Regions from separate parts of the Homo sapiens genome. Here region 1 is linked to region 2. Evidence: fine-mapped expression QTL. A gene starts in region 2. The other region holds a variant in brackets. All regions are shown on one strand. Distances are between the middles of the regions.

Evidence for each region.
Region 1: its variant is fine-mapped to the expression of LETM1 in prefrontal cortex (BrainSeq, PIP 0.95).

What each region holds. Positions count from the first base shown.
Region 1 is chr4:2,272,842-2,284,148 of GRCh38, reverse strand. It overlaps ZFYVE28 (zinc finger FYVE-type containing 28), which reads left to right. Exons shown (of 13, transcript NM_020972.3): 9 at 9,933-10,087; 10 at 10,860-10,976. Among named protein-coding and RNA genes, the nearest start is that of MXD4, 16 kb to the right of the region's middle. RefSeq lists enhancers at 1,764-1,823, 2,592-3,091, 3,092-3,593. The variant G/AG (reference allele first, on the strand shown) is at 5,930.
Region 2 is chr4:1,850,972-1,862,278 of GRCh38, reverse strand. It overlaps LETM1 (leucine zipper and EF-hand containing transmembrane protein 1), which reads left to right and starts at 6,123. Exons shown (of 14, transcript NM_012318.3): 1 at 6,123-6,410. The coding sequence starts at 6,329. RefSeq lists enhancers at 4,242-5,037, 5,707-5,776, 6,414-6,915 and silencers at 5,307-5,526, 5,927-6,486, 6,497-6,686, 7,481-7,657.

The DNA of each region.
Region 1 (11,307 bases), 420 kb before region 2:
CTCCACAGCGAGCCTGAGCTGTCGATTGATGTCAATGAATGTGGATGCGGGGGCTCCAAGAAAGAGAGCACCTGTGCTCTGTTCCTCAAACTCTTTTTCCCTCAAGTGTAGCCTACAGGGAATTGCGTTCTGTGGAGCATCCTCTGGGGGCACTGACCAACAGGCCAAGGTCCGAACTGTCCAGCCCTCCCAGTGGGCCTCTGCTTAGCCTCAACCTCTGCCTGGTCTCTCCCAGCATCACCAGGGGGTTCCCTACAGTCTGTCGGCTGCTTCCCACCTCTTGGCTTTCATTCAAGCTGTCCTCATGCTGCGCCTTCCAGGAACCCTCCCTGGCACTCCAGACCTCTCTCCAGCCTGAGTGAGGAGTCTCCCCTCTGACCTCCCACAACAACACCCTTGATGGTTCCTCTGTTACACTTTCCGTGTGTGATAATTAACTGTTCACCTATTGATCTCTGCCATCAAATCGTGAGCTCCTTAGGGCTGAACTGTGCAATTCCTGGATCATAGTTGGTGCTTAGTGCATGTTTGTAGGGCAGGTGGATGGATGGATGGATGGATGGATGGATGGGTGGATGGACGGTTGGATGGTTGGATGGATGGATGGATGGATGGACTGATGATTAGATGGATGGGTGGGTGGATGGATGGATGGCAAATGAATGAGTGGATGGGTGGATGGATGGGTGGGTGGATGGGTGGATGGATGAGTGGATGGGTGGATGGATGGGTGGGTGGATGGGTGGGTGCATGAGTGGATGGGTGGATGGATGATTGGATGGATGGATGGATGGATGGATGGATAAATGGATGGGTGGGTGGGTAGATGGGTGGGTGGATGAGTGGAAGATTGGATGATGGGTAGACGGATTGGTGGGTGGACAGGTGGGTACATGGGTGGATAGATGGATGGATGATTAGTTGGGTGGATGGATGGATGGATGCATGGATTGGTGGATGGGTAGATGAATGGATGGGTGGATGGATGGATAGGTAAATATATGGATGGGTAAATGGATGAGTGGGTGGGTGGGTGGATGGATGGATGACTTTTACAAGAAGCAGCCAGCCCACCATTTGCGTCAGGGCCCAAGGTGGCTCATTAGAATTGGTATGTGGTTGTACAAATGCCCGAGCTGCTAATTTTCCCACATCCAAGCACAATTAAACCTTGCCTCTGGAGCCTACCAGTCACTCTTGATGTTCTTTGTTTTTGTTTTTTATTTATTTTTCTTTAGAGATAGAGTCTTGCTATGTTACGCAGGCTAGCCTTGAATTCCTGGGCTCAGGGGATCCTCCTGCCTCAGCCTCCCCGTAGCTGGGACTACAGGCTGTTTTTCTCTTCATTAGCCTTTGCAAATGGTTTCAAGAGTTCAAAAATTAATGTATCTGATGTCATAATGAGAAACATACTGTGATGCTGTTAGTCTTTCCAAAGTTGGCATTCTCTTCTTTCACAGACTCCTAGAGGTTCAAGGTGGCAAAGTCCTGTCTTTCTGTTTGCATACTCACTTGCTAAATTTGCTGCATCAGATTCATTTGGGCTTTGCTATGGTCTTTCTTTTCCATAGTAATTGGAATTAAAATTATAAGTTCAGTAAACTTCCCTCTTCTGCTCTATCCAATTGCTGAATTCAGACGTGTTCCATGTTCCCAACATCTCAGAGGCTCCCCTCACCACTTTTCCCACCCCAATGATGACATCAGCCATTTATCCCCCCTGTGTGCTGTTCAAGAGGAGCACTTTGGAAACCTGGCCACTGTCCTGTGGCCTAACTGTGACACAGCTGAAGACACAGGCTGGGCAGCCTTTGGTATTGATGTGACTGTTTAGAATTGCACTGCCTTTCTTTACCAGAGAATGACATTTCATAGTAGTTCAAACCGAAGTGGGGCTGTTGCAGGGAGTTTTTGCTGCCTTCTGTAAGAGAGTGGCAGGAAGCAACATTCAGGCAGCCGGTGCGGGAGTGTCTGGCAGCTGCAGAAGGTGGCTGGACTTTTAGACATCCGGGTGAACATGCTGAAGTGACGTTGATCCACTGACTTGAGAACATCAGTGACAAGGGTTCAGACTCTGTGGTGAGACACAGGAAGCTGTTGGCAGGGCAGGTGCCCTTCACTCTTCTAGCCTCTGCTTCTCATGGCTCCCTGTCTTTCTGTGACTTGAGCTGTGGCTGTATCTCACCCGTACTGTTCCCTTCCTCACCACAGGGATGGACCCGCTGGGCACCAGCTCACTTCTCGGCTCTGTATTGTTAATGTGTGTGGCTCCCCCACTAGACTTGGCTTTTGGGGGACACATAGTGTCTGATCTACCCCTGAGGTCCTCCTCATGGCCCTACCCTGTCTGTTCAGCAACTGGCCACAGGGGATAAACACCCTTCCAAAGGCAGTGTTCCTGGGCCACTGGCATCCAAACAGTGCCCCCTGCTGTGGTTTGAATGTGTGCCCCAAAGTTCATGTGTTGGTAACTTAATCCCCACTGCAACAGCGTTGAGAGGGGGGACCTTAAAGAGGTGATGAGGTCATGAAGGCTTTGCCCTCCTGAGCGGATTGATGTTATTGCAAGAGTGGGTTTGTTATTGCTGCAGTGGGGTCCTTATAAAGGGTGAGCATGGCCCCCTTCCCCTCTCTCTTGCCCATGCGATGCCTTCCTCCATGTGGTGACATAGCAAGAAGGCCCTAGTCAGATGGGGCCCCTCCACCTTGGGCTTCCCAGCCTCCAGACTGTGAGCCAGAAACATGTCTGTTCATTATAAATTACCTAGACTGTGGTACTCTGTTATAGCAGCAGGAAGCAAAGGAAGACACCCATCCACATGGCCCCAGGAATGGCTGACCCAGAAGGACCCAGGCTCATGCTCTCGGTGAAATCCTGGGTTCTACCTCCCCACTCTGCTCTCTTGTTCCCTTTGGCCCTTCCAAGCCCAGCCGGTTCCCTTGGGCAGTACCTCATTGGTTTTTCTACCTGTGACATCTCTGTATGGGGCCCCTTGGCTCTCTCTGTCCACCCATTCCCCCTCCCACGCCACCAGAGCTTCCAGCCAACCAGGGCAGGGAGGCAGGAGAGGGCCTTTCCTGTGGCAAGTGAAGGGTGTCTGGGGTTGAGATGGCCATCAGCGATCTGACCTACCCGTGGGCAATCGGCCAGCCTTGGCCTGGCCTCGGTCTCAACCTGCTGGTAGAAGCCATTGTTCTTATGCCACACTCAACTCTCTGTTGAACGTCAGGGCCCTTCCCCTGATTTCTCATCTCCAGGGGTGCTTCAGTAGCAGGATGCTTGTCCAGATAGCCTTCCCAGCTTCAGGGTGTTGGTCCAAGGGGCTGGAGCTGCGGGGCTGAATACTTCCCATGGGCTTCTCCTTTCACAGGGAAACAAGTTCCTCGCCACAGGCAGGGCCCGAGGGTGCCATCTGCTGCCAGCAGGCACTTTCCTTTCTTCTTGAAATGGCATCTCTTCTGATCACAAAAGCAATACTTGATCCGCGATGAGACTTTAGAAAATGATAATTTACCTGTAATCTTACTACTCAAGTAAGTGTAAGATTAATGCCTTACCTTGAGTATCTTCCCCAGTGTGTCATTTATGTACATATGACATCTCTAATTTTTATTTTTATTATTTTATTTATTTTAAGAGACAGGGTCTTGCTCGTTGCCCAGGCTGGAGTGGAGTGCAGTGGTGTGATCACAGCTCACTGTACCCTTGAACTCCTGGGCTCAAGCGATCCTCCCACCTCAGCTTCCAGAGTAGCTGGTACTACAGGTGCACACCATCATGCCTGGCTAATTTTGGATTTTTTGTAGAGACAGAGGTCTTGTCATGTTGCCCAGACTGGTCTTGAACTCCTGGCCTCAAGTGATCCTCCCGCCTCAGCCTCCCAATAATTGTTGGGATCACAGGCATGAGCCACTACACCTCGCCTCTAATTTTTTAAATGCTACATTTTTCATTTCATATTTTAACATTTCCAGTGGACCATCCTTCTGGAGATTGTTTCACCATAGGGATATGACCTAATGTATTGAGTCAACCCACTGTTGATGGACATTTAGCTTATAAGCTATTTCTTGCATATGAGTTTGCTGGGCGATTACAAGAAAAACATTCTCTTCTGTTGTTTGTGAGATGTACAGCTCAGTAATTTGTGGTACATCCATGAGGCTGTACAGCCAATATCACTGTCTAATTCAAAACATTTTCATCACCCCATAAAGAAAAACCCTCCCCATCAGCAGTCACCATGTTCCCCTCCCCCTTCAGCTGTTGCGACCACGGTTCTGCTTTCTGCCCCTATGGGTTTCGCCTGTTCTAGACATTTCATGTGAATGGAATCAATCATACAGTATGTGATTTTTTTTTTTTTTTTTGAAGGAGTCTCACTCTGTTGTCAGGCTGGAGTGCAGTGGCATGATCTCGGCTCACTGCAAGCTCCGCCTCCCGGGTTCACGCCATTCTTCTGCCTCAGCCTCCTGAGTAGCTGGGACTACAGGCGCCCGCCACCATGCCTGGCTAATTTTTTTTGTATTTTTAGTAGAGACAGGGTTTCATCGTGTTAGCCAGGATGGTCTCGATCTCCTGACCTCGTGATCCGCCCACCTTGGCCTCCCAAAGTGCTGGGATTACAGGTGTGAGCCACTGCACCCGGCCAGTTTGTGATCTTTTGTGACTGGCTTCTTTCACTCAGCACGATGGGTGTGTTTTTGTTTTTGTTTTTTTAGACGGAGTCTCGCTCTGTCTTCAGGCTAGAGTGCAATGGCACGATCTTGGCTCACTGCAACCTCTGCCTCCTGGGTTCAAGCAATTCTCCTGCTCAGCTTCCCGGGTAGCTGGGATTACAGGCATGCGCCACCACACCCAGCTAATTTTTGTATTTTCAGTAGAGACGGGGTTTCACCAAGTTGGCCAGGCTGGTCTCGAGCTCCTGATGTCAAGTGATCCTCTCGCCTCGGCCTCCCACAGGGCTGGGATGACAATATGATGTGTTCAGTGTTCATCCACACAGTAGCATGTATAAGTGCTGCGTTCCTTTCTGTGGCTGAAAACTTATTCCATTATATAGATAGACATTTTGTCTATCCATTCAACTGTTTTCCAAAGTGTCTGTGCCATTTTATTTTTCCATAAGGAAGAGAGGAGGATTCCAGTTCCTTCACATCCTCACCTTCCTCACCACAACTTCATATTTTCTGGGTTTTTTTTTTTTGAGGGGGGGGGGAACATTCTAATCGTCCTAATAGATAAAATGGTATTTAATTGTAATTTTTTTGGCATTTCCTGACTGACAGTGATGTTGGGCATCTGTTCATGTGTTTATTAGCCATTTGTATATCTTCTTTGGAAAAATGTCTATTCAAATCCGTTTTCCATTTGTTCAGTAGTGTTTTTTTTTTTGGTCTTTTTGTTGTTGGATTGTAAAAATTCTTTCTATATTGCAGATACTATGTCCTTATCAGACACATGATTTGCAAAAATTATTCTGTGGGTTTTCTCTTCACTTTCTTGGTGGTGTCCTATGAAGCAGAAAGTCTTCAGTTTGATGAAGTCCAGTTATCTGTTTTCTCTTTTGTTGCCCATGCTTTAGGTGTCATGTCTAGGAAACTGTGGCCTAGCCTAACGCCACAAAGATTTACTCCAATGTTTTCTTTTAAGAATTTTAAGCCTGGGCGCCGTGGCTCACGCCTGTAATCCCAGCACTTTGGGAGGCTGAGGTGGGTGGATCACTTGAGTCCAGGAGTTCAAGACCAGCCTGGGCAACGTGGTGAAACCCCATCTCCGCTAAAAATGCAAAAATTAGCCGGGCAGTGTGGTGCACGCCTGTGGTCCCAGCTACTCAGGAGGCTGAGATGGGAGGCTCACTTGAGCCCAGGGAAGTCAAAGCTGCGGTAAGCCATGTGAGACACCATCTCAAAAAAAAAAAAAAAAAAA[G/AG]AGAGAATCTTTGAGTTGTAGCTCTGACATCTAGATATATGATTCATTTCGAGTGAATTTTTGTATGTGGTATAAGGTCAGAGTTCAGCTTCATCCTTTTGCATGTGTGTCTCCGGTTTTCCGGCAGCATTTGTTGAAAAGACTATTCTTTCCTGGTTGGTCTTGGCACCCTTGCTGAGAATCCACTGCCCATAAGCATATGGGTTTCTTTGCGGACTCTCGGTCTCATTGGTCTGTATGTCGGTCCTATGCTGCTGCTGCACAGTCTTGATTCCTGCTCTTTCATGCCACATTGCAAATCACAAGTGTGAGTCCTCCAACTTGTTTTTTTTCTTTTGGCTATTCTGGGTCCCTCGAGTCACTCCCACATTAATTTTAGGATCATATTGTCCATTTTTGCAAGAAAAAAAGGCAGTTGGCACTTTCGTATGGATTGCATTGAATCTGTAGATCGATTTGGGGAGTCATGCCGTCTCAACAATATTGTCTTCCGACCTGTGAACACGAGATGTCTTCCCATTTATGTAGGTCTTCTAATATTTTTCAACAATGTTTTGTTGTTTTCAGTGTATGATTCTTGTACTTCTTTTGTTAAATTTATTCTAAGTATTTTAATCTTTTTTATGCTATTGTAAAGGGCTAAGGATTGTTTTCTTCATTTCACTTTCAGTTTATTGCTACCATATCTAAACACAAATGATCTTTTTTTTAATTTTTATTTTATTTATTTATATTTTTTTGAGATGGTGTCTCACTCTGTCACCCAGGCTGGAGTGCAGTGGCACGATCTCAGCTCAGTGCAACCTCCGCCTCCCGGGTTCAAGCAATTCTCCTGCCTCAGCCTCCCGAGTAGCTGGGACTACAGGCACACGCCGCCACGCCCGGCTAATTTTTTGTATTTTATTAGAGACGGGGTTTCACCGTGTTGCCCAGGCTGGTCTCGAACTCCTGAACTCAGGCAGTCCGCCTGCCTCGGCCTCCCAAAGTGCTAGGATTACAGGCATGAGCCACCACGCCCGGCGTGATCTTTAAAAAAAAGCCTTTATTGATATGTAACATACATACCACAAAATTCACCTTTCTAAATCACACAGTTCAGTGGTTTTGGGCAATAATACCCCTGAGCCTTCTGTGTCGGGCGCCACGCCAATCCGGCCTTCTGCCATGTACTTGCCGCCTCCGTTCCCTTGCCTCTGCTCTCTCCCTGCCCCAATTCTTTTTTTTTTATATTTTTAATTTTTGTAAAATATATGTAGCATAAAGTTTACTATTTAGCCCTTCCTAAGCGTACAATTTCGTGGCATTGAACACACTCAGTGCCGTGCAACTGTCACCAACATCATCTCCGCAACGTCCTCATCTTCCCAAACTGAAACTGTTTCCCCATCACTCACTCCCCCCGACTCCCCGCCCTCTGCCCACCCTGGCGCCCACCGTTCTACCTTCCATCTGTATGAACGTGACGGCTCTCAGGACCTCGTGTCGGAGACTCAAGCAGGACGCATCCTTTGGTAGCTGGGTTGTTTCACTCAGCATGATCTTGCCAACATTCATCCGTGGCTGTAGCCTAGATCCGAATTTCCTTCCTTTTTAAGGCTGAATAATATTCTGTTGTATGGGTGGACCACATTTGGTTTATCCACGCCTCTGCCAACAGACACCTGAGTTGCTGCCGTCTCTTGGCCGCTATGAACGTGGGCGTGCAAGTATCTGTCCGAGTCCCAAATTTCAGTTCCTTTGGGTAAGGCTCTGATGAGGCTGGGGGTACCGAGTGGAAGCTGACATCCTGGACAGTGAAGGCCCCTCCCTTATTCAGCTCCCAGGGCAGAGGGCAGCAAGGCCCACACCCCCAAGCTGAAGGTAGGGGCTTCATCTGTGGAACCCTGACCACCTGGGAGGGGAGAGCCACGGAGCATTGTTGGGGTCCCAGCAGAGGATCCCGTCCCATGGGCCCAGGCCCCCTAAGCCTCCTACCGTGCTCCCACGTTCCGGCAAATATTCAGCTATGTTAGCACATTGCCATGAGGGAGGGGGCCCCGTGCAGCTCCAGGGACGCTTCCAGCCTCCTCCCCCGCTCTGCCGCAGCCCGCTGCCCTGAATTCTCACGTGCGCCACGCCTCTGTGCTTCTGCAGGGTTTACGTCACGAGGCTGTGTCCCTAAATTAGATACCAGGCAGTTGTGCATGTTTCCCACGGTCTGTGAAAAGACTCACGCCACGTGGGATTCGTGCGCGTTGGCGGGGCTGTGGCTGGCTCGCCTCCGCCTCCGTGGCCTCTGCTGGTGGGCGATTAGATCACGGTGGGTCTTCCATTCCATTGCTGGCGGACTTGGGATCCTGCCCAGCGTTTCACTGGAATCCCCAGCACCGCGTCTAAGACCCTGCATCTCTGCAGACAGACGCAGATGCGCGTTTCCAGTGTATGCCGGCAACAGAGGCCACCGGGCTCCAGAGTGTAGACAGCCCTGGCTTTACTGAAACGGTGCGAACATTTTTTCCGAAGTGGTTGCACCAGCTGACGCTCCCACCAGCAAGGTGAAGGCTCCTGTGGTTGCACCCACACTGTTCTTATTTTTGCACAGGTCGACGAGGATCCCCGAACATTTGGGGCAAGGCTCGGCATGAGACACGGCCAAATAAATGAGCCAAGCCCTCCAAAAGAGGCCGTGCAGGATGCCAGTGGCAACTGAAAAAAATTATCACGAATATTTCTAGGTAGAGAAAAGATTTTGCATCCATGAAACGACAGTAACAGCAGTAAATTTAAAACTTGATAGCAGAAATTTAAACGTCAAGAGTAAAATTAGAAGAACGAGTTGGGGGAAATTTCCCAGAAAATGGGACAAAAAGATAGGAGATAAATTAGTTTAAAATGAGAGGGCCAGTGGGTGCACCCCTAGAGTTGGGCGAGGTGAACCTCCGGAGTTAGTACAGGCCCAGCTGTGAACGATTTATAGGGTCACCGTGGAACCCCTGAGTAGCAAATCTGATGAAAGCTGAGGACGCAGCTGCTGGGAAGATGGAGACCCCATGCACGGAGGGTCCCTCAGCCTCCAAGGGCATCCACGGACAGAGCCTGAGGTCTGGAAGTCAGAACCGATGCCCAGGGAGGCCAGCGAGGCCTGTGGGGTCTTGTGCAGAGGCCCCTGGAGGTCCCGGGCCCTGTTCTGACTCCAGGCAGGGAAGTGTAGGTGGGGGCGGGGGGATCCTGTATTCGTTTCTTGAGGCTGCTGTCCCCGCAAACTGGCCTAAGCCCTGGAAACTGTCTCGCAGTCGGAGGCCCGAAGTGCAAACTCTGGCAGAACCTCACTCCGTCTGCAGGCTCCAGGGCAGGCTCCTCTCGCCTCTCCCAGCTTCTGGGGACTCCAGGTGTTCCTTGGGTTGGGGCCGCGTCTCCGGTCTCAGCCTCCGTGGTCACATGGGCTCTCCTGCCCTCTGTGTCTGTGTCCTCTTCTGTCTCTTATAAGGACGTTTGTCTTTGGACTTATGACCTGTCCGGATCATTCAGGGCAATCTCTTCATCTCCAGATGCTTCACTTAATTGCTCCTGCTGAGACCCCTTTTCCAAATGAGGTCACGTTCACAGGCTTCAGGGGCTGGGGTGGGGAGAGATATTTTTGGGGGCTGCCTGACACTCAGGCCATTAGAAATGGTGTGAAAGGTGAGTTGACGCTTCCATAGGGGCAGTCGGTCGATATTAAGCCAGGAGTACAGCCTCAGTGGGTGAGTCGCCACCAGCTGTCAATTCCAGGAGGCCCAGCAGAAATCAAAGGCCCGGGACTGGCTCAGAGCCCTGTTGTACCACCTGGTATATGTGGTGAGCATGTTACACTGAGGACATTTTAGGTGAAGTTACAGGAAAGTTGTGTATCTGGGCAACAGATACACGCCTGTGGGGTGAGCGTCTGCGAGGACACAGACTTTTGTCTTGACCAGTGACCTTCGGGCTCCACGGCCCCTTATCATGCCCCACCCCACACACCGGTATCTCCTTCTCCATGCAGCAGCTCCACAGCTGGGTCCTGCTCCTCAGACAAGATGGGGCCAGAGGCGGCCCCAGCAGCCACGCATGCTGCCCCACAGGCCACAAGAGAGAAGATCCGGTCCAGGTTCCACGGCAGCCACGACCTCATCCACCGCCTGTTCGTCTGCATTTCAGGTGTCATGTCAGGGCCTGAGACCGGTGCATGGCTTGAGGACACACGGGCTGCGCTTTAGGGGAGGTCAGGCGGGGCGTGTACAACCTCCCCCTCACTTTCCTGTAAACAGCAGCCCACTCTGCCCCTAAGGAGCCAGCACTCCTGTTCATGGAGAAGGCTGGACTGACCCCACACAGGCAGGAGGAGGAGGGGAGCTGCGGGTGAGGGTGGGAGGCGTTTTCCTCCAGGGAGTGGCGGCGGGGGCAGTGGGGTGGGGGCAGAAGAGCCAGGCGCTAGGCATCACCTCTGGGCAGGGTCCACCCTGGGCTCCCAGCCACGTAGGCTGCTGGGGGGCTGTGCCTGCGAGGGGTGGACATGCTTTGCAGGTAGACACATTTGGATGCCTGAGTGGCTGTGACAGTCACAAGCACTGGCCTGGGGGTGGGCACAGTGCAGGGGCTCTGTAAGTGTCCCTCAGCGCGTAGCCTGGCCAGCTTAGTGGTGATGGCTGTGACCTGTGCATAAAAGGTGTGAATGTCAGCGGCAGACCGACTGTGGCGGGGCTGTCTGTCTGGTCGTCTCCCTTCCCCTGATCTCTCTCGACTCCCGAGTTTTTATTCTTGCAAGGGAATCCTCCCCCAAGGGGTTGGGCCTCCTCCCTCCCTGACTGATCTGAGAACACGCTGGCCTGGGCTGTGAGCTCTGGCTGGGTCTGCCCAGCCCGCAGCACCGACCTCCGCAGTTCCTTCCATCCGTCCTTCTGTCGTGGTTACTGTGGCCTTCCTTCCTCAGGTGTGGCTGACCAGCTGCAGACGAACTATGCCAGTGACCTGAGAAGTATTCTTAAAACACTGTTTGAGGTCATGGCCACCAAGCCTGAAACAGACGACAAGGAAAAGTTAAGGAAGGGTGAGTGCCCACTCAGGACGGGCTCTGAGGCCTGCGCTGGTGGCCGTGTCCCTGCCCACAGGGAGGGGTGCTCAGAAATCCACACCTTCTGGCCCTGGGGAGATAGGGTCCCGACCAAGCAATCGTCGACCCCAGGATCCCCTGACCTCTGCACTCCAAATGTGCCAGGCTGCCCTTCCTGCTGGGGAGCCAAGGGGCACAGCAGCAGGCCCAGGAAGTGCCCAGATGGGCTGCCCGCCCAGGAAGTCACTCCACCCCTGCAAACGAGCAGATGGGCCAGGGCCCATGGCTTGTGCCCACAGCCCCGGCTTCTGTCCCCTGCATGTGCAGC
Region 2 (11,307 bases):
GGGCCGCTTCTTCCCTAGACTGGCGACCGTCTTTGGCAGCCTGAGTTAGGGACTGACCAGGGACAGCCAGAGTGCCACCCCAGCCAGTCTGGGACAGCCACGCAGGACAGAGGCTGCCTCCCCTTCTGCCAGCCAGCCAGATGTTTTACTGTTTTTTACTGCAATAATTTTAGATTTACTGAAAAGCTGCGAAGATCATAGGGAGTCCCCCAACCTGGTTTCCCCTAATGGTAACATCTTACATTTCCAGGGTAGCTTGGTGGAAACCAACACTGGTCCCTTACTATTAACTGATCACCAGGGTCAATTCAGAGTTCACCAGTTTCCCCACAAATGTAGAAGGATCTAAAAAGCAAATCTGGCTGGGCACAGTAGCTCCTGCCTGTAATCCCAGCACTCTGGGAGGCCCAGGCAGGTGGATGGCTTGAACCCGAGTTGGAGACCAACCTGGGCAACATAAGGAGACCTCATCTCTACAAAAATTTAAAAATTAGCTGAGCATGGTGGCGTATGCCTGTAGTCCTAGCTACTCCAGAGGCCGAGGCAGGAGGATTGCTTGAGCCTGGGAGTTCAAGGCTGCAGTGAGCTATGATCACGCCACTACACTCCAGCCTGGGTGACAGAGACTCTGTCTCAAAAAATAAAAAACAAAAAGCAAATCTAGGTGCAGCAAACCACCGTGGCGCACGTTTACCTACGTAACAAACTTGCACATTCTGCACATGCATCCTGGAACTTAAAGTACAATAAAATTAAAAAAGAAAAGAAAATAAAAGAAAATATATGTGCAGAAGGTGGAGCCCAGCCAGAGCACCAGTGTGCAGCACCCCACTGAACTGGGGACAGTAGCACAGCTGGAATCTGTGGGGAAGGCCCTGGAGAGGAAAGTGTTTGCAGGGAAGCCTGAGATGTCCCACTGTCCTTGGCTGAGGAGTGGGCTGCACCTGCTCAGGATGAGGCCACCTGGACTTAACAGGAAGCAACTGCCATAGGAATTCTGGCCCAGCCTGCATGGAGAGACCTCATTCTAACCTCATCAATGTCCCTCATGAATGCTTTGGTACCTGGCTCCAAACCCCTCTCAGCCCACAGGCTTGGTATGCAGCTGAGACACCAGGACCCATGCCCTGGGAACTGGGACTGTGTCCTAGAGCAAATTCTCTAGGCACATCCTGTCTTAGTTATCTATTGCTGCATAATGGACTACCCTCAGTTCTTCCCCATGTGGGTCTCTACAGGCTATCTGAGTGTCCTCATGACCTGGCAGCTGGCTGTTCCCAGAGTGGAAATCCAAAAGGGAGCAGGGAGCCTGTAATCCCAGCATTTTGGGAGGCCGAGGTAGGTGGATTGCTTGAGCCCAAGAGTTCAAGACCAGCCTGGACAATGTGGCGAGACCCCATCTCTACAAAAAAATACATAAATTAGCCAGGCATGGTGGCGTGTGCTTATAGTCCTAGGTACTCTAGAGGCTAAGGTGGGAGGATCCCTTGAGCCCGGGAGGTGGAGGCTGCAGTGAGCTATGATTTTGCACCACTGCACTTCAGCCTGGGCAACAGAGCGAGACCCTGTCTAAAAAAAAAATATATATATATATATATATATATATATATACACACATATATATACATATACATATATATACATATATATATACACACACATATATATACACACATACACATATATATAGTGGGTTCCATTGATTCAAATAAAAAAATTTTTTAAAAATTAAATAAAACAACAACAACAAATAACAAATTTAGGTCAAGCATGGTGGCTCTTGCCTATAATCCCAGCACTTTGGGAAGCTGAGGCAGGAGGCTCACTTGAGGCCAGGAATTCAAGAACACCCTGGGCAACATAGTGAGACCCTGTCTCTACAAAAAATTAAATAATTAGCCAGGCATGGTGGCACATGCTTGTGGTCCCAGCTACTCAAGGAGGCTGAGGCAGGAAGATCGCTTGAGCCCAGAGGTCAAGGCTGTAGTGAGCCGTGATCATACCACTGCACCCCAGACTGGGCAACAGAGTGAGGCCCTATTTCAATTAAAAAAAAAATCCAAATGCATAGCCCTCCCATGTCCCAGCCCAAAGCCACCACTTTTTTTTTTTTTTTTTTGAGACGTAGTCTAGCTATGTCTCAAAAAATGCAATGTAGTGTAGTGTACACTGGAGTGTAGTGGCGTGATCTCGGCTCACTGCAACGTCCATCTCCAGGGTTCAAGTGATTCTCCTGCCTCAGCCTGTCAAGCAGCTGGGATTACCGGCATGTGCCACCACGCCCAGCTAATTTTTGTATTTTTAGTAGAGACGGGGTTTCACCATGTTGGCCGGGATGGTCTCGATCTCCTGACCTCGTGATCTGCCCACCTCAGCCTTCCAAAATGCTGGGATTACAGGTGCGAGCCACTGTGCTTGGCCCAAAACCACCACTTTTATCTGCAGGTGGTTCCTCAGTGGGGTGAGAGGAGGCTGGAGGCTGGAGGCTGACCTCCACTTCTCCTGCTGCATGTACCTGGCTAAAGCTTCTCCCAGCTGCAAGGTGACCTGGTATCCAAGGTTTTTCTCCTGGGCTGTCACCCTAGCCCCTGCCATCACCAGTAAGTGCAAGCACCCTGTGTGGAGCATCCCACTTTCGTCAGCTTACTTGTTCTGGTACCTGGCTCCAAACCCCTCTCAGCCCACAGGCCAGTGATCCTGCTATCTTCTGCTGTCTCCCACTGCCCCCTCCTGTTCTTCCCTTTCCTTCTCCCCAGTTTCAATTCCTGGGACAAGCCTCATAGTCTCTTGCAAACATCCTTGTCTCTCTTCCTTCATCATACTTCCCAGCAAATCCCCAATCTGGGCAAATGCAACTCTGGCTGCTTTTCACCAGAGCATGGGTCAAGTGCAGCACACAACCCTTCTAAGTCTTCCTCTAGTTCGCTAACTGGTTCCCTAAGCTCCCTAACTAGATCCCTAACTTCCTCCCTAACTAGATCCCTAGCCCCCCTTCCCTAACTAGATCCCTAAACCCCCCAACTAGGTCCCAACCCCAACTAGGTCCCTAAGCTGCCTGACTAGTCCCTAGCCCCCTCCCTAACTAGATCCCTAACCGCCCTCCCTAACGGGATCCCTAACCTCCCTAACTGGGGCCCGTGTGCTGCCTGGGCTTCCTGCCCTGTTTCTCTACTGTCACTTGTATATACACCGAGTGACTATGGAAGGTTATATGTGATTTGTGAGGAACATAGGGAGAAGGAAAAGGAAGTTTCCCCAACCAAAAAAAAAAAAAGAAGAGAAAAAGGCTAAAAACAGTGCTTGCTATTAAACCACTGCGCCATGGTTCTGTGCCCTTGTTCTGCTGCATATGGAGATGTGGGACTGGAAGGCCTCATTCCAGCCTTAAGGGTGCACAGTCAGCTGGCTGGATGCCAGATTTCTACTTATTTCTTTTGACCTATTTTTTTTTTTTTTTTTTGCGACAGTCTCGCTCTGTCACCAGGCTGAAGTGCAGTGGCACAATCTTGGCTCACTGTAACCTCTGACTCCCTGGTTCAAGCAGTTCTCCTGCCTCAGCCTCCCGAGTAGCTGGGATTACAGGCATGCACCATAATGCCCAGCTAATTTTTGTATTTTTAGTAGACAGGGTTTCACCATGTTGGCCAAGCTGGTCTCGATCTCCTGACCCCGTGATCAGCCCGCCTCGGCCTCCCAAAGTGCTGGGATTACAGGTGTGAGTTACTGCGCCTGATCACAGCTATTTTAATTGTTGAAAATTTATCTAAGATCCCACCCTGCCTGGGCTGCACGAGCATCGCAGACAGCACCTGCCTGTGTCAGTCCTGCTGTTGGCTCTCCGCTGCCAGGCTTTCCTTGTTCTGGTCCAGGGATGGTGGGTCATCCCAACTGCAGGCGAGGGTATGTTCCACATTTCCTCACACCCAGCACTTTGGGCAGGGTGGAGACTGCGGGGAGGGCTTCCCTCCTCTTTCAGTGTCATTCAAAGTCCTGTAAACAGGCACTAGCACAGATGGGGCAGTCACCACCTCCTGCCTGGCCTTGCCGGGACACCTGGGACCCCACAGCATTAACGAGAGGAGCACTGTTTCTTGCACCCTCTCCGGGGTCACCCTCCCTAGCCAGCATCGGGCAGGGTCATCTGGTGCTCAGAACCAATGTCCAGACCAGGACTAGGACATACAGTCCTACAGCTGGGCCATAAAAAGTCCTACAGCTGAGCCATAAAAAGTCCTACAGCTGGGCCATAAAAAGTCCAGTTCTTTCTGACCCTGACCAACTGTCCACTCCAGCTCAGGTCCAACCCTGGGTGGGGAGGCAAGGACTATCCTTCTGTATCCCCCTCTTGCCTCCTGGGGGATGGGTGGAAAAGGGGCCCCTTCATGTCTGTTGGCAGCACAGGCCTAGGTTCAGGCCTAGTTGTGCTTAAACTCTGTCTGCATTTGATGTCTGCAGTGCCCACTGACCGGTGTGGACACAGGGACTTACAGACGGCTTCAAAGTGCCCTGCACTAAACAATGCCCCCTTCTCCCACTGAGATGGGGAATTCAAGCCCATCCAGGCCCAGTACCTGGCAGTTCCTGATGGGGAAAACCACCCAGGCAAGCAGGCTACGTTTTCCTGACGGGTGAGGACCGACTGCATGGACAGCAGGGGCAGAGGGGACCCTGGGGAGGGAGCCTCCTAGGGAGATGTGCCATTCAACCAGCCTCTCAAGACTGGGGAGCTGGCTGGCATCAGGCGTTTCACACCCCATGCGCTCCAGGGAACAGAGATGCTGAGTGTGCACTACAAGACCCTCCCCAGGCGGTGCCCTGAGGTGCCGCGGAGAAGCAGGAGGAGGCAGGTTACATCCCTGAACAAGACAGAGGGCAGGGCAAGTGCTGTGCTGGGGATCTCCTAGCTGGAGATCTCCACCAGCTGGGCCCCCAGCGCCGCAGGTCCCCATTTTTCTCCCTGCCTGCTTTCTCTGCCCCAACTCAGGGATCCTCATCTTAGGGAAGGAAGGGGAAGGTGGAGCTCAGAGGTCACGGTCTGCTGGGAGGCTGCACGGTCTCTCTCCCCTGGACTGGTCAGGGCCGGCTATTAAACTGGGCTGGGGGGAGGCTCCTGGGAGACGGCGCATGAGCGGTCCGCGAGCCCAGCCCAGCTCTGGCGGGAATTCTGGAGACTTCGAGCCAGGTCCTTGGCGTCCTGGGCTTCGGCTGTTCCTTCTTGGACTGGGAAGTGGAGCGGACAGGGTATGGCCCAGGTTAGGAAGTCTGGCGCTCTTGCGGCGCGCGGGACCCCAGGGGCTGCTTAGGCCAGAGCGAAACGAGGGGTCCCCCCGCGCCAACGCAGGACCCATATCTACCCCTCCCGCTCAGACGGGAGGACGCGGTGTGCCGGGATGGGGGGCCGCTATGCTGGCTGCGCCGCCACCCGGCCTAGTGCCCTCGCCTCCAGGGGCCGGCATGGCCCTGTCCTTCGGGGCGGGACCCTGCGCTCCCGTCCCCCCAGTGGTGACGGGGACTCCCGACGCCGAGCAGCGCCGTATCTGGGGAGCGCCGCCCGGTACGCAGGGAAGAGGCACTCAGAGCTGCGCGCGCCAGAGTGCAGACCGCCGAGGGCAGAGCCACAGAGCAGGGGGGCCGGCGAGGGACCGCGGCCGAGGGCGTCGAGGGCGCCCCTCCATCCCCAGCGTCCCCTGACTTGCCCTTGGAGCCCCAAGCTCCCAGGAGCCGTTTTCTACTCGTGGGTGCAGGACTTAGTCCCAGAAAAGTTCCGGACACACGCGCTGCTGCCGCCGCCCGGAGACGAAAAGACACTCCCCGCGCAAGCGCGGCCGACTCCCTCAGCTCCTGCGGCCGCCACGCTGCGAGCCCCGGCGTCCACGGTACGACGGGAACCAGGATGCAGCGAGCCCCAGGAGCCAGCCGCCCCGGTGCACGCCGGGACCGGTAGTCCGCGCCTCAGGGTAGTCCGCCGCTCCGGTGCACGCCGGGATCGGTAGTCCGCACCCCAGCGTGCAGGCCGTCCCGGTGCACGCCGGAACCGGTAGTCCGCGGTGGCGCGGTCCGCCCCTCACCTGGCCAGCGGCGGGCGCTGAGGGGCCCAATGGGAGCCGCGGCCTGGCCGCCCCGCCCCGCGCCTCCGGACGTCTGTGCCGGGACAAGGCCGCCGCTGGTGCCGGGTCCTTGAGGAGAGCGCCTCCCGTCCGAGGCCAGCCGCCTCTGTCAGCCGTCCGCGCGGGCCGGGTCTGAAGCGCCGCCGGGACGGCGAAGAGCCGCGGCCGCCGCGGAGAAGGAGGCAGCGCAGGAGGCCGGAGCGGCCGCCGCGCCCGAGCACATGGCGTCCATCTTACTGAGGAGCTGCCGCGGCCGGGCGCCCGCCCGCCTCCCGCCGCCGCCTCGGTACACCGTCCCGCGGGGTAAGCGGCGGGCACCCCAGGGCGGGGCCGGCTCCCGGCTGGTGGGTCGGGAGCGCGGACGACCCGCGGGTTCGGGCTGGTTGTCACGGCGATGCGGGGAGCCCGGTGGTCCCGGCCTCCGGAGCCCCTGCGGGACCGTGGGGCCCCGGGTCTCGTCGCGGGCTGGGCCGCCAGCGCCGGGCGGAGCCGCTGGGCCTCTGCCGTGTGTTGTGACCTTAGGCGGCCGGGTCCCCCGGGTCACTGCCTCAGAGACAGTGGGAAAATTCTGAAGGGCTGGGCAGCCCTGGCGCGCCCTGCGCGAGTAAGCTTGGTGGAACGTGTCCACGCACGAGGACGGCCGTGCCCTTTGGTCACGTTTGGGGTCCCGGAGACGAGACTGGGTGGGCAGGGCAGACACCGGCGAGCAGGACCTGCTGGGCTGCAGGAGCCTTCCTGGTCCGTCACTGATGAGGTGATGCCAGCACCTACAAACCCCTGTGGTGTGATTAGGCCGCGACCGGCACCCGGGGAACACGGGGACTCCGGAGCCGCTGAGGGTCCTCAGGGTGCGTGGCTTTAGCCCCCCTAGCCTCAGGTGCTGTCTGGAGTGAATGCTGTCCCAGGGTGTGCCCACCTCCTCTCTCTCTCTAATTAACCAACTTATTTGAGTCTATGTCCTTATTTGTAAAATTGGAATAAACATAAAACTTGCTAAGAGGGACTCAAGTAAAATAATTAGTGCAGTGGTGCGATCATACTCACTGCACCTCAAACTCCTGGGCTCAAGCTATCCTTCTGCCTCAGCCTCCCAAGTTGTTAGTTGTGCCACACAACACCCAGCTAATTTTTTTTTTTGTAGTTTTTTTGTAGAGACAGGGTCTTGGTATGTTGCCCAGCCTGGTCTTGAACTCCAAGGCTCAACTGATCCTCCTGCTTTGGCCTCCCAAAGTGCTGGGATTACAGGAGCCACCATGCCCAGGCACCCAGCTTCAATATTCTTGTCTCTGTTCCCCACCCCCAAAGAGATAGATTGAAGTTGCCCTGAATGTATCCTCCCAATTCTTGTTTTTTTTTGTTTGTTTGTTTGTTTGTTTTTAAAGACAGAGTCTCAATCTGTTGCTCAGGCTAGAGTGCAGTGGTGTGATCTTGGCTCACTGCAACCTCCACCTCCTGGGTTCAAGTGATTCTCTTACCTCAGCCTGCCGAGTTGCTGGAATTATAGGCACCCGCCATCACGACTGGCTAATTTTTGTATTTTTAGTAGAGACTGTTTTCTCCGTCTTGGCCAGGCGGGTCTCGAACTCCTGACCTCAGGTGATCCACCCACCTCGGCCTCCCAAAGTGCTGGGATTACAGGCGTGAGCCACCGCGCCCGGCCCCCAATTCTTGTAATTTTTTTTTTTTTTTTTTGAAATGGAGTCTCGCTCTGTCATCCAGGCTGGAGTGCAGTGGCATGATCTCGGCTCACTGCAACCTCTGCCTTCCAGGTTCAAGCGATTCTCCTGCCTCAGCCTCCTGAGTAGCTGGGATTACAGGCGCACACCCTCATGCCTGGCTAATTTTTGTATTTTTAGTAGAGATGGGGTTTCACCATGTTGGTCAGGCCGGTCTTGAACTCCTGACCTCGTGATCCACCCACCTCAGCCTCCCAAAGTGCTGGGATTACAGGCGTGAGCCACCTCGCCTGGCCAATTCTTGTAATTTTTACAATAATGGCTGGTTAGCCACTGAAACTTTTGGAGTGGTGAGAGGATGTTGAGTGGTGGAACTGCACAGTCTGAAGGTGGAGCTCAGCATGTGGTCTTTCCAGTTGCTGTGTTAGATGTTAGAGCTCTCTCTGGACCTCTTGATGGTGATAAAAGTACTTTTAACACTTCGTGCTTATTATCAGATTTTTGATAAATAATAATAATAATTAGCTTTTTATGTGCGATTCTGTCATTTCAGGAACACAAATGTCTTCTGTAGTTACTACTGTGCTTTGTGACAGGGACACTGGCAGGTCTGCTGTAGAAACAGTAGGGATTTCAGAGCCAGCGAGACCCAGGGCTGGACTGTGGAGGAGGTCCCTGAACTGATGAGTGATACACCGAGTGGAGTGCTGCAGGCCCCTGCTATTAACATCTTAGATGAGTAGGGTTCGTTGTCACAGTTAATGAACTGACCTTGATCTGTTACTGTTCACTAAAGTCCATAACATATTCAGATTTTCTTTACTCTCCCGTTCTCCATTCTGAGGTCCTTTTTCTGTCCCAGGACCCATCTGTACCACCCTTCTTGATTGCCTCTCAGGCTTTCCTTGTCTGCAGTGACCTTGACAGCTTTGAGGAGTACTGCCCAGGTGGAGTGTAGGGTGCTGCTCTACTGGTATTTCTTGATGTTTCCTCATAATTAAGCTGGGAAAGATGGTTTTTCAGGAGGAAGACCACAGAGGTGAAGCATCCTTATCATATCCCGCCGAGGCTCCATGCTGTCCAAATGATTTGTCACTGTTGATGTTGACCTTGATCAGTAGGCTGAAGTGGTGTTTGTCAGGTTTTTCACTGCCCAGTTACTCTTGTCCCACCTCCCCATTTGTCCTTTTTGGGAGGAAGTCGCTTTACGAGCAGAAGCAGGGCTGACTCCAAGGGCTGTGTGGGAGAGGGGGCCTCTGGCCTGAGCCGCCTGGGGACAACAGTGAGGGCTGTGTGGGAGAGGTGGCCTCTGGCCTGAGCCGCCTGGGGACAACAGTGCCATTTGTTGAAACTGGGGAGGACTTGGGGAGGAGCAGAATGAGGAGGGGCGCTAGTTGAGAGTTCTTGGAGGTGTGGACTGTGCCGTGCCCATCAGACCTGTGGGGCGTGTGTATTCAAGTCAGGGAAGAGATTGCCTGGGGAGGAGGTGGAGGTCAGGTAGGGAGGCTCTCCCAGGAGTGGCAAGGGTGAAGCCAGGTGAAGAAAGGTTTGTTTGTTCTTTGACCTGATCCTGGCACCAGCACTGAGGGCTGAGAACCCTGGAAGTTTCCTGAATGATGGGAGTGTCTTTTTTCATTTGTTTGTATTTTGAGACAGGGTCTTGCTCTGTCACCCAGGCTGGAGTGCAGTAGCTTGATCATGGCTCACCACAGCCTCCAAGCGATCCTCCTGCCAGCTGATGTTTTAACATTTTTGTAGACAGGGTCTCTGTTGCTCAGGCTTAACTCCTGAGCTCAACAGCGATCCACCTGCCTTGGCCTCCCAAAGTGCTAGGATTACAGGCGTGAGTTTGGGAGTGTCTTCTGTTATTCGTTATCACTGCACCTGAGTTTATGCTGATGAGGTGACTCCAGGCAGGCCCTTAGATAGATTGAGGTGCTGGCCATGCTGTGATTAGAGGGTGGGAACTTCCTGCCCCTTCCAGGGAGGCGAGAGGGTTTGGAGATTTAGTTCAGTCCCCATGGCCAGTGGGCCAATACTGTAATCAGTCATGAAGCCTTGATGAGAACTTCTGGGTGAGGAGGCTGGTGAGGCTTCCCACTGGCGTCCACCTAGCTCCACAGGACAAAGGATCCTGTGCTCGGGACCTCCCTGGCCATGCTGTCTGGTTGTTCCTAGGTACCAGGTACCCTTTATAATAAACTGTGACAGTAAGTAGAGCCCATTGCTGACATCTGAGTCATTCTTGTGAATGATCAAAACCAAGGCGGTCATGGGAACCCTCAAATGTGTGGTCAGCTGAAGTTGGGTAAGCCTGGGCACATGGAGTGGGGGCAGTCTTGTGGGACTGAGCCCGTACCCTGTGAGGTCTGCACTAACTCTGGGTAGTGTCAGTATGGAATTAAATTGTTGGACTCCCAGTTGGAGAATTCGTTGGTGTTGGAAAAAAGAACAGAAGGGCTCCCAGCAGGGCCTGGGCACAGATGACACCTGTGCTCGTGAGGGACGTGGAGCAATGATCCCCATCACCCCGAACGGCCTTGACTGGGGGTTCCTTGGAGAGCTGGGGACAGAAGCCGTCAGAACAGGTTTTGGGGAGAGCCTAGTAAGGGAGCCAGTGGGACAGGCAGTGTTAGAGAGAAGGTAGGGTCACTGGGGGACAGATCAGGGAACTCTGGGAGACCTGCCAGCCTGCCTGCTTGCCGGGCGGAGCCCTTGAGGCACAGGAGCTGGCCGGGGCAGGGGTGGAGGGGCTGAAGGTGCCATGGTGTGGGGAGGATAGCGGAGAATGCGCTGGGCCCTCTTCATGTGGAGAAAGGTGGGGGCCAAAGCTAGTCTCAGCTGGAGTGAGAAGGGCCTTGGCATGCTCACGTGTGCTGTGCTTTGAATTTTAACTTAAAATGTAACTTGCTGTGTATGAGAACATAGCCAACATTTTCCCCTTAACCCAGCTCCCAGTTCACAGACCGGACTGTTACAAGCCCTAAATGTGGCACGTAGTAGGAATTTCCTTCCCCACAGAACCAGGAGAGTTGCCTCCTGTTAAATGAGGTGAAGTGACGTATCGGTCCACTAGGAGCAGGGTCAGTGCCTGCCCTCCCCATCTTGTTCGTCCTCTCACGGTGGCTCTCGTTGCCGGCTGGAGTGAGCTCCCCCCATCTTAAAGCTGCACTTGCTGCTCCCTGGCTGTTGACTCATTGCAACCCCACTGCTTGGAGGTTCAAGGTCACTGGGCATCTCAGGGTGCTACCTGCTGGCTCCCGGCACCGCCTAGCCTCTGCACAGCCTGGCCTGGCACCTCCGTGGGCTGGTGCCTCTGGCCCTGCTGCTCCTATTCCTGTCTTGTTCCCAGCATGAAGTTTGATCACAATGGGCTCTGAATGTCAGTAATACGAATGAACTCTGACTTTATGCTTATAGGAACTAGAGCAAGTTAGGGAAAGCATCAAAAACATGTTGAAATCCTAAAAATGTGCTGTACACTTATCACTGTTGTTTATACAAGAAATGGCTTACTCTTGGTG